Homo sapiens: one gene and its partners. The protein of the gene in region 1 binds, or shares a complex with, the protein of each later gene. Each region holds a gene or a part of one and is shown in the gene's direction. Other genes may lie near its edges. The genes, in order: NKAP, CIRSR and HDAC3.

What was found.
Region 2: NKAP (region 1) and CIRSR share a complex: the UniProt entries of both Homo sapiens proteins name them as parts of the notch corepressor complex.
Region 3: NKAP (region 1) and HDAC3 share a complex: the UniProt entries of both Homo sapiens proteins name them as parts of the notch corepressor complex.

The regions. Positions count from the first base shown.
Region 1 is NC_000023.11:119,937,098-119,940,846, reverse strand, and holds part of NKAP (NF-kappa-B-activating protein), read left to right. Parts: intron 1-2,036; coding exon 2,037-2,117; intron 2,118-3,749. UniProt on the Homo sapiens protein: Acts as a transcriptional repressor. Plays a role as a transcriptional corepressor of the Notch-mediated signaling required for T-cell development. Also involved in the TNF and IL-1 induced NF-kappa-B activation.
Region 2 is NC_000002.12:174,389,038-174,392,786, reverse strand, and holds part of CIRSR (corepressor interacting with RBPJ 1), read left to right. Parts: intron 1-3,749. UniProt on the Homo sapiens protein: May modulate splice site selection during alternative splicing of pre-mRNAs. Regulates transcription and acts as corepressor for RBPJ. Recruits RBPJ to the Sin3-histone deacetylase complex (HDAC). Required for RBPJ-mediated repression of transcription.
Region 3 is NC_000005.10:141,634,851-141,638,599, reverse strand, and holds the start of HDAC3 (histone deacetylase 3), read left to right. Parts: upstream 1-1,750; 5' UTR 1,751-1,809; coding exon 1,810-1,864; intron 1,865-1,969; coding exon 1,970-2,052; intron 2,053-3,646; coding exon 3,647-3,749. Other genes in the region: RELL2 (RELT-like protein 2), read right to left, coding at 191-374. UniProt on the Homo sapiens protein: Histone deacetylase that catalyzes the deacetylation of lysine residues on the N-terminal part of the core histones (H2A, H2B, H3 and H4), and some other non-histone substrates.

The DNA.
Region 1 (3,749 bases):
GTGACAACAGGACTTCCTGCTATTTACAGCCTGGTAGGCGTTCTTCCCCCGATATCCATACATTCCAAGTACAGCTATAAATATGTTACCTTTTAAATTGTCTGTTACTTCAGGTGGGAAACCCTCTCAGTCTGACTCTGCATAGTTATAATACCTTTTCCCCTGATTAAGGAGGCAAAAACGATTTATACAAAAACTCATTGCAATTATATTTATTTTGGAAGGATTTTTAAAAACAAATGGAGTCACAAGCAGCTAAAATTTGAGAGAATGAGCCTTAGTCTTTGTTTTGTTTTGTTTTTTAGTTTATGAGGAATAACAAAAATTAAAACAGAAGAAACCATAGGCATAAAACAAAAGAAGAAACAAATTTTAGTGTCCTTCAAAGAATAGATACAAAATGCACTCCTTTTCCAAAAAGGAACTAAAAGGAAAACAGAGAGGGAACAAACCTTGTATCTCATTGAGTATAGTTTTTTTTTTTTTTTTTTTGGTTTTTTATTTTGAGATAAGAGTCTCACTCTATCACCCAGGCTGTCATGTGCAGTGGCGTGACCTTGGCTCACTGCAACCTCCACCTCCAGGGTTCAAGAGATTCTCCAGCCTCAGCCTTCTGAATAGCTGGGACTACAGGCACATGCCACCGTGTCCAGCTAATTTTTGTATTTTTTTTAGTAGAGACAGGGTTTTACCATGTTGGCCAGGCTGATCTTGAACTCCTGACCTCAGGTGATCCACCTGCCTCGGCCTCCCAAAGTGTTGGGATTACAGGCGTGAGCCACCACGCCCAGCCCCAAGTATATTTTTTGTTAAATGAAACTTTTTGACTAGGTGCAGTGGCTCATGCCTGTGATCCCAACGCTTTGGGAGGCTGAGGCAAGAGGATTGCTCGAGGCCAGGAGTTCAAGATCAGCCTGGACAACAAAGCAAGACCTCTTTTTTTTTTTTGAGACGGAGTCTCGCTCTGTCTCCCAGGTTAGAGTGCAGTGGTGCGATCTTGGCTCACTGAAACTTCCACCTCCTGGGTTTAAGCGATTCTCCTGCCTCAGCCTCCCTAGTAGCCAGGATTACAGGCATGCGCCACCACGCCTGGCTAATTTTTGTATTTTTACTAGAGACGGGGTTTCACCATGTTGGCCAGGCTGGTCTTGACCTCCTGATCTCAAGCAATCCGCCCGCCTCAGCCTCCCAAAGTGCTGGGATTACAGGCATGTGCCACCGCACCTGGCGGCAAGACCTCATCTCTACAAAAAAATAAAAAACTTTTATTTCGGGCCCGGTGCAGTGGCTCACGCCTGTAATCCCAGCAACTGAGGTGGATCTCCTGAGGTCAGGAGTTTGAGACCAGCCTGGCCAACACGATGAAACCCCATCTCTACTAAGAATACAAAAATTAGCCAGGCGTGATGGCGCATGCCTGTAATCCCGGCTACTAAGGAGGCTGAGGCAGGAGAATTACTTGAACCCAGGAGGCGGAGGTTGCAGTGAGCCAAGATCGTGCTACTGCACTCCAGCCTGGGCGACAGAGCGAGACTCCATCTAAAAAAATAAATAATAAAATAAAATAAAAACTTTTCTTTCATTTTCAGAACTTCAGTTGTTTTCTACGTCTAATGCATCATTTTTATTTTCTTCATTAATTCCTCGATTTCTGAAAACTGAAGGTTTGACCATATCAAAAGAGACTTCTCTTCACCTTTCATAAATCTGTAAACAAATGAAGTTACTTACAAATGTGAAGCTGTTTCTGTCACATATTACAGATGATGAAATGAGCAGTTAAGAGCTGTGTCATGCATTCAGCAGAATGGATGCACTTGACAGTCTCCCAGGCCATCATTTCTATAGTCTGTACCATTTGATAGTATCATCAGAACATCAGACCTTAAGTGATGAGTTTACATTTAAACCAAGTTTTTATCCATGTTTAAAATATAAAGGGAAAAAAGGCTTAACTAGACTCCTATTGAATTTGATTATATATTTAGGAAACAACTCAGCCATTGAGTTATAATTTACATGTCTTTATCTGCTAGGAGATTAAGTGAGAGAGAGAGAATTGGAGAATTGGGAGCTCCTGAAGTATGGGGACTTTCTCCAAAGAATCCTGAACCAGAGTAAGTGGTTAAAAAATATATTTTTAAAATGTTATAATATGTGTTTAAATCCTGAATCTATTGTGAAAATGTTTAAGTGAAGAACTTTAAATATATCTCACATTTTTCTTTCTTGTGATTTATGTTCTTCTACCCCTTAAGTTTTAAAAACATAGAACATATCTAAAGATTAAAACATGTTGCTAGTAGGTTTTAGCATAATCTAAAATAATTCCTGGAATATAATTTTCCTATTAATAGAAGGGTTCATTGTTAAATAATACACATTATTTTGAATTATTTTTTCTCAACTAAACTCAGTGGCAGATTGCATGCCAGATATTAACATTACAAAGAGATTTTTTTTTTTGAGATGGAGTCTTGCTCTGTCGCCCAGGCTGGAGTGCAATGGTGCGGTCTCAGCTCACTGCAACCTCCGCCTCCTGGGTTCAAGCGATTCTCCTGCCTCAGCCTCCCGAGTAGCTGGGATTACAGGTGCCTGCCACCATGCCCGGCTAATTTTTGTATTTTTAGTAGAGACGGCGGTTTCACCATGTTGGCCAGGCTGGTCTCGAGCTCCTGACCTCGTGATCCGCTTGCCTCAGCCTCCCAAAGTGCTGGGATTACAGGCGTGAGCCACTGCGCCCAGCCTACAAAGAGATTTTTTAAAACGAATATACCAGTATGGTTTTGTTAATATTCCTATATCCAATACTATCTGCAGACTTAATGCTTTTTCTTTTTGCTTATTTCTTTTCTCTTTGATGCTACTCATAAGTTTCTTCTTCCCTCTCTGTTTCTGTGCCAACTTTAGGTTGAGTTGAGACAATGTGCTTGACAGGTAAACCTGTAATTTGTGATTGGATAATAAAGCATTATTATCTGAAACTTGTTCTTACAGATACCTTTAGAAAATGCTTGAAGAGGCCAGGTGCGGTGGCTCACGCCTGTAATCACAGCACTTTGGGAGGCCAAGGCAGGTGGATTCCTTGAGCCCGGGAGTTCAAGACCAGCCTGGGCAAATAACAAGACTATTTAAAAGAAAAAAAAAAGAAAACACTTGAAGAACCTGAATGTATTGAATTAGAGTTGGAAGGAACCCTAAAAATAGTTTTCTTTCTTCTTTTTTTTTTTTTTTTTTTTGAGACAGAGTCTTACTCTGTCACTCAAGCTGGAGTGCAGTGGTGCGATCTTGGCTCACCATAACCTCCGCCTCCCAGGTTCAAGTGATTCTCCTGCCTCAGCCTCCCGAGTAGCTGGGATTACAGGTGCATGCCACCATGCCTGGCTAATTTTTGTATTTTTAGTAGAGATGGGGTTTCACCATGTTGGTCAGGCTGGTCTTGAACTCCTGACCTCATGATCCGCCCACCTCGGCCTCCCAAAGTGCTGGGATTACAGGCGTGAGCCACTGCACCCAGCCAAAATAATTTTCTAGATAATATTTAAATTACTCCAAGTATGATCTTCAGAGGAAAAGATTATATGATGTGGAAACTCCTTTTCTAAACTATTGTAGAATTTGAATAATACTCATTTTCAGAATTCTCTGCAACAGAACAACATCTCTTTAGACTGTAGTTTGTTAGGTTTTTGCTCTGAGGAGACAGAACAGTTGCTGCTTTACCATTTGTCTTTTACGTGCTTAAAATA
Region 2 (3,749 bases), on another chromosome or scaffold:
TTTTTTACCCCAAATCAGCCCTTTTTATACTTGCTATCTCATATGGGTAGAAATATAGATAGTAAAACAGTCCCTCATCCTGTTGCCCAAACCAGAAGCTCAGGATTCATCCCTTTTCCCATCACTCCTTTATCTAGTCAATCACTGAATGCTATTGGTCTTACCTTCCAAATATCTCTTGAATCCATCTTTCCTTTCTGTCACTGCTGCTTGTGTCTTAATTCAGACCCTCATCATCTTTCACCTATATTGTTGCATTTCCTAAGTGGTTCTACTGCCTCCAATCTTGAGTCCTCTCAAATCCATTCACTACACAGCCATCAGAATAGTCATTTTTCATTTTAACAGCTCTGCTGAGATAAATTTACATATCATACAAACACCCATGTAAAATGTACAATTTAGTGGTTTTTAAAATGTATTCATGGAGTTAAGTAATCATTACCACAAACAATTTTAGAACTTTGTCATCACCCCAAAAAGAAACCCCCGCTGGGCATGGTGGCTCACACCTGTAATCTCTGCACTTTGGGTGGCTGAGGTGGGTGGATCACCCGAGGTCAGGAATTCAAGACAGCCTGGCCAACATGGTGAAACCCTGTCTCTACTAAAAGTACAAAAATTAGCTGGGTGTGGTGGCGGGCGCTTGTAATCCCAGCTACTTGGGAGGCTGAGGTGGGAGAATCGCATGAACCCGGGAGGCGGAGATTGCAGTGAGCCAAGATTGCGCCACTGCACTCCAGCCTGGGTGACAGTGAGACACTGACTCAAAAAAAAAGAAACCTGCATACCTGTTAGTCACTCCCATTTTTCCTTAACTCTTCTCCCTCTCTCCAGCCCTAGGCAAGCACTAATCTACTTTCTGTTAGTGGATTTGCCTATTCTGGAAATTCATTTAAATGGAATCATGCAATCTGTGGTCTTTTTTGACTGGCTACTCTCACCATAATGTTTTTGAAGTTTATCCATGGTATGGCATGTATTGGTACTTTTTCCTTTTTATTGCTAAATAATATTCCATTGTATGAATGTAAGTTATTTCGATAGAATTGTCTTTTTTTAAGCACAAATCTGATCTCTTTCAGCCTGTTATTAAAATATTACAGGATTGAGTCCAAGTAATCTCACTCCATCGTTTTTCTCCTTCTCCCCTCCTACTATTCTCCCACCTCAGATTTATTTATTTATTTATTTTTTGAGATGGAGGCTCACTCTGTTGCCCAGGCTAGAGTGCAGTGATGCAGTCTCAGCTCACTGAAGCCTCTACCTCCCAGGCTTAGGTGATTCTCCTGCCTCAGCTTTCCGAGTAGCTGGGATTACAGATACACACCACCACGCCTGGCTAATTTTTGTATTTTTAGTAGAGATGGAGTTTCACCATGTTGGCCAGGCTGGTCTCAGACTCCTGACTTAAGGTGATCTGCCCACCTCAGCCCAACCTAAGATTTTATATGTTAGTAATATTGAACTACTTACGTTCTATTTTATATCTCTGGGCCTTTGCCTGAGTCATTCTCTCTGCCAGTTATATCTTGCCCTGTTTTTTTCCTTGGCCATGCCTTGATCCTTTTCAAAACCCTGTCAAATGTGTGTGAAATTACCTGTGTATTGAGTTCTTGCAGCAAAATTTTTAATAGCAAAATACTGGAAATTTCTTAAGTGCCCATTTATACAGTATGAGATAAATAAATTATAAATTATGGTATAGTCCCACAATATGCAACTTTACCACCCAAAAGAAGAAAGTGTTTGTTTACTGATCCATATTAGTCTTGTATTAGTATTAGTCTGTTCTCATGCTGCTATGAAGAAATACCTGAGACTGGGTAATTTATAAGGAAAGAATTTTAATTGACTTGCAGTTCTGCAGGGCTGGGGAGGCCTCAGGAAACTTAAAATCATGGCAGAAGGGGAAGCAAACACGTCTTTCTTCACATGGTGACAGCAAGGAGAAATGCCGAGCAAAAGAGGAAAAGCTCCTTTTCTGATGGTTTTATCCATCAAATTTCCTGAGAACTCACTCACTATCACGAAAACACCATGGAGGTAACAGCCCCTTTTATTCAGTTACCTCCCATCGGGTTCCTCCCACGATACGCGGGGATTATGGGAACTACAATTCAAGATGAGATTGGGTGGGGACACAGCCAAACCATACCATTCCACCCCAGCCCCTTCCAGATCTCATGTCCTCACATTTCAAAACACAATCCTGCCCTTAACAACCAAAGTCTTAACTCATTCCAGCATTAACTCAAATGTCTAAGTCCAAAGTCTCATGTAAGACAAGGCAAGTCCCTTCCACCTATGAGCCTGTAAAATCAAAAGCAAGTTAATGACTTCCTGGATACAACAGGAGTACAGGCATTGGGTAAATACACCCATCCCCAATGGGACAATTTGGACAAAACAAAGGGGCTACAGGCCCCATGCAAGTCCAAAATCCAATAGGGCAGTCATTAAACCTTAAAGTGCCAAAAGGATCTCCTTTGACTTCATGTCTCATATCCAGGGTGTGCTGATGCAAGAGGTAGGCTCCCAAAGCCTTGGGCAGCTCTGCCCCTGTGGCTTTGCAGGGTATAACCCCTCTCCTGGATGCTTTCATGGGCTGGTGTTGAGTGTCTGTGGCTTTTCCAGGCACATGGTACAAGTTGGTGGATCTACTATACTGGGGTCTGGAGGACAGAGGCCCTCTTCTCGCAGCTCCACTAGGCAGTACCCCAGTAGGGACTCTGTGTGGGGGCTCCGACCCCACATTTCCCTTCCGCACTGCCCTAGTAGAGGTTCTCCAAGAGGGTTCCACCCCTGCAGCAAACATCTGCCTGAACATCCAGGTGTTTCCATACATCTTCTGAAATCTAGGCAGAGGTTCCCAAACCTCAGTTCTTGCCTTCTGCGCACGTGTAGGCCCAACATCACATGGAAGCTGCCAAGGTTTGGGGCTTGCATTCTCTGAAGCAGTGGCCATAGCTGGAGTGGCTGGAATGCAGGGCACGAAGACCAAAGGTTGTACCCAGCAGTTGAGAGGCTGGACCCGGCCCAGGAAACCACTTTTTTCCTTCTCCTAGGCCTCCAGGCCTATGATGGGAGGGGCTGCTGTGAAGGTCTCTGACATACCCTGGAGACATTTTCCCTTGTCTTGGTGATTAACATTCGACTTCTCATTATTTATGCAAATTTCTGCAGCCGGCTTGAATTTCTCCCCAGAAAATAGGGTTTTCTTCTCTATTCCATTGTCAGGCTGCAGAATTTCCAGAATTTTATGCTGTGCTTCCTCTTGAATGCTTTACTGCTTAGAAATTTCTTCTACCGGATACCTTAAGTCATCTCTCTCAAGTTCAAAGTTCCACAGATCTCTGGGGCAGAGGCAAAATGCCACCAGTTTCTTTGCCTAGCAAGAGAGACTTTTACTCCACTTCCCAAAAGGTTTCCCATCTCCATCTGAGACCACCTCATCCTGGACTTCATTGTCCATATTACTATCAGCATTTTGGTTAAAGCCATTCAACAAGTCTCTAGGAAGTTCCATACTTTCCCACATCTTCCTGTTTTCTGAGCACTCCAATTCTCTAGGAAGTTCCAGAGTTTCCCACATTTTCCTGTTCCAACCTCCACCTGTTACCCAGTTCTAAAGTCACTTCCACATTTTCGGGTATCCTTTTAGCAGCCCTCCATTCTACCTATACCAATTTACTATATTAGTCTATTCTCACGCTGCTATGAAGAAATGACCAAGACTGAGTAATTTA
Region 3 (3,749 bases), on another chromosome or scaffold:
CCTGCCCATGCTGCTTTCTCTAGTTTTGCTTTCAGAGTGGTGTCACCCCACTTGCTAACTCAAGAGTGCATCACTAGGCTTCCTGAGCAGGTTTGATCAGGATTTGGCCTGGGTCTGTTGGTCAGGGAGGCAGAGGTGTGGGGAGAAGGGTGAAAGGTGACTGAGCCAGGGTTCCAGGCTCCTCACTCACGGGGCTGAAGCTGGGCATCGTCAGGCTCAGAGCCCCTCGACGTGCGGCAGCGGTAGCCCTTCTTCTTGAGCACGTGGCAGATCATGAAGCCTACCAGGCCCATGAGGAAGAAGACCAGCACAAGCAGGAAGAGCATATATAGCCCATGTTGGGGCGGTTCCAGGTCAGGCTGTGGTTCCGACATGAGGCCCTGGGGGGCGAGCGCGGGCCAGGGCGCCTCCTGGGTTTAGGGGGCTGCAGCTGGGAATGGGGGAGGGGTAGGAATGCCGTCCTCAGGATCTGAAACAAGCACGTCTAAGACGTCCGGCTGAGGTCCGGCCCCACCCCCTACCCAACCAGGGAGCTGTCCGGGCCAGGAGTGCTGTTTCGCCTTTCGGCAAGAGGTCAGCGGCAACGCAAGCTCTCTACCACGACCCTGGTCCCGCTTCCCCGACGCCCCGAGCGTTCCCCTTTCCAGCTTGTTCGCGCTTCTGTCCCTCCCAAGGACACTGCAGCACGAGATGGGACGGCATTCTTAGGCGGCGGGAGCAGAAATCCTGCCTGAGTCAGCGCCCGCACCTCCTCCACGCCGGCCTGAGCCAGGCCTCTGCAGCCCCTTCCTCTCAGTACTCCCGCACCCCTCTCCCTTTTTGGTTTCTCCCACCCTGACCACCTGGCCGACCCGGTACCGGTGATTTGGTTCTGGTTCCGGCTTCTGCTGGGGTTCCGGCTCCAGGGGCGTCCTAGTGCGGCTCAGGGCCCCCGACGCCCTTCCGGCGCTCATCCCTTGATTCCTCCCCTCCCCCTTCGCCGCCTCACCGGCCCCGGGCTGTGGCTGCGGATACCCGCGCCGTGGCAGGCGGGGGGAGGGAAGAACAGAGAAGGATGCGGGCTGGCTGAGAGCGGTGGCAGGCTCCGGGCAACTCCGGCCCTGGGTCAGGGAGATCGCCTCCGCAGCCGCCCTGGCTTCCCAAATGCCTTCACCCGTCGCGGGCCCAGGACCAGGGGGCGGAGCGCAGGTGTGCGGGGCGGAGAGCGTGAGCTCTGCGCGCGCGTGACTGCGCCGGGCCCCCCCGGGGCAATGTGCGGCGCCGAGTCTGGGTCCGGGTAGGGGACAGGCGGTCCGGCGTGGGTGTTGTCCACTGGTCTATCCGGTACGCCTGGCGCAGCTCCTGCCCTCAGATGCCCCGACCGAGCGGAGAGTCAGGAATCTTCTCCGAGGGCTGGGGGAAGCCGGCTTTCCGCACCTTTGAGGGACGGAGTGGCGGGATCTTCGGAGCTTCCTAGAGAAGTGACCACGGCCTGCGCCCGGTTTGGGGCAAGCGGCTGGATGGGATGGCTCGGCTTCCCGAGGATCTGACCCCCGGCCGGAGACAAATGGCCCTCGCATCCTAGGAGCTATGCTGCCAGTTCCCTGCCCAACCCGGGACGCTCAAAGCCCCAGATACCGGGAGAGCTGAGCCGGGCGAGGGGCGGAGCTCCCCTGGGGGCGTGGCCTGGGTGTGGATGGAGGCGGGGCCGCAACGCCCAGTTCCGCAGAGGCCGGCTACGTGCTTGCGCAGCACGCACGGCCGGGGAGGGGCTGGCGGCGGCCGCGGGCGGCGGGCGGCGGAGGTGCGGGGCCTGCTCCCGCCGGCACCATGGCCAAGACCGTGGCCTATTTCTACGACCCCGACGTGGGCAACTTCCACTACGGTGAGGAAACAGGGATATGCATGAGGGGTTGGGACACGGAGGTTTTGAGGCGGGGTTGCAACTCCAGGGGTGAGAGCTGACGAACTCTCTTCTCCCCACCCCCAGGAGCTGGACACCCTATGAAGCCCCATCGCCTGGCATTGACCCATAGCCTGGTCCTGCATTACGGTCTCTATAAGAAGATGATCGTGAGTTCCGCCGCCTCGGCCGGGGGTTGGGGGGTGGGGCGAGCTGTGGCCGTAGGGATAGGTGGGCTGGACTGAGTGCATGAAGTGCGACCCGCCCCTAGAGTATCGGGGAGCTGGATAGAAGTCACCAGGAGTACCTTGAAAGTGCAGGGTGTTGGGGGTGGCGTCCTCTGCTTAATGGAAAGTACTTTCTCACCTCAGGTCGGCCACCCTCTGACTGTAGGCACACTAGCCCTTGGCCTAGGGTTAGCGTGATGTGGGGCTGGTTTGAAGACAGAAGGTGTGTTCCTCCTCTGCATTTTAGAGTGTGGATAGGGCCTTGGCCTCAGGAATTAGGGTTAGGGGAGCGGATATCACTGTATCAGGGTGTGAGGTTTACCCTCAGTTCCCACTCCTCTTTTACCACCTTTCTTTACCTCCAAGGAGCTAGGGCTCCAGGGTGGAACGATGCTGCCGTCTTTGTAAATGTGTATGTGCGTGTGGAACAGAGGCGATATTTTAGATATTCCTTTTTCAGCCTGGAATACCTCTACATGGTTCTGCTTAATCGCTATCCAGTTTTTCATCTACCAGACATACACATGCTGTCTTCCCAGCTTGGAATTTATGGCTGTGATATGGGATAGTAACAGTTAAGCCACGCCAGGCGTGGTGGCCCATGCCTGTAATCCCAGCACTTTGGGAGGTTGAAATGGGGGGGATCGCTTGAGGCCAGGAGTTGGAGACCAGCTTGGGCCACAGTGGGACCCACATCTACAAAAAATAAAAATAAAAAAAGTAGCCATGTGCGGTGGGTGTGCCTGTAGTCCCAACTACTTGGGAGGCCGAGGCGAGAGGATGGCTTGGGCCCAGGAGTTTAAAGTTACAGTGATCTATGATCAGCAGCCTGAGTTGACAGGGAGGACCTTGTCTCAAAAGAAAAAATAAGACAAAACAGCTAAACCCAGGCTTTATGTGTTGCTAGGGAAACTAGTGAACAATATGAATGAATGTTCATTGCTTGTGCCAAGGCACAGACAAATGGACTGGTCATAGAAAAGACTGAGGTGATGTTAGTGCAGGAATCTATATCCCTTGAGATTGTTTGCCTGTATGTACCTGTGTGCATTTTCTGGGAGAAGAAAAGCTCTTTCTTGTGCAGTTTTCAAAGAGGTGTGACACATCCCCCTGACCTTCCAAAGATAATAAATCTTTGATTTTAATTAGAAAGTTGACATATATCCCATATATTTGACTCCAGAAAGAAGAATCCAGAGGAAAGAGGACAGAATCAGAGCTTGGGGGAGGAGATGAGCATGGAGAGAACTGGGAATAGGAGATTCCAAGGAACAGGGCAGGTGGATCAGGGCTCAAAGTTGAGAAGGTACGATAGGCTGAGCTGGAGGTGGAAAGGAAAAGAAGTGGTCTTCAGGGGGCTCATTTGTAATAACTTACCTGGTTAATCGGAGTCTCTCTACTGACTTAAGGATTGTGGGATGAGGGGAATGCTATGTTTGGCTTCATATAGTCTCCAGGACTGGGTTCAGTATGGGTGGTCTGAGCCTGTGGAGTGGGGCTGACCCTGCCTGGGTTCATCTTGTGTCTCCATCCCGAGGTCTTCAAGCCATACCAGGCCTCCCAACATGACATGTGCCGCTTCCACTCCGAGGACTACATTGACTTCCTGCAGAGAGTCAGCCCCACCAATATGCAAGGCT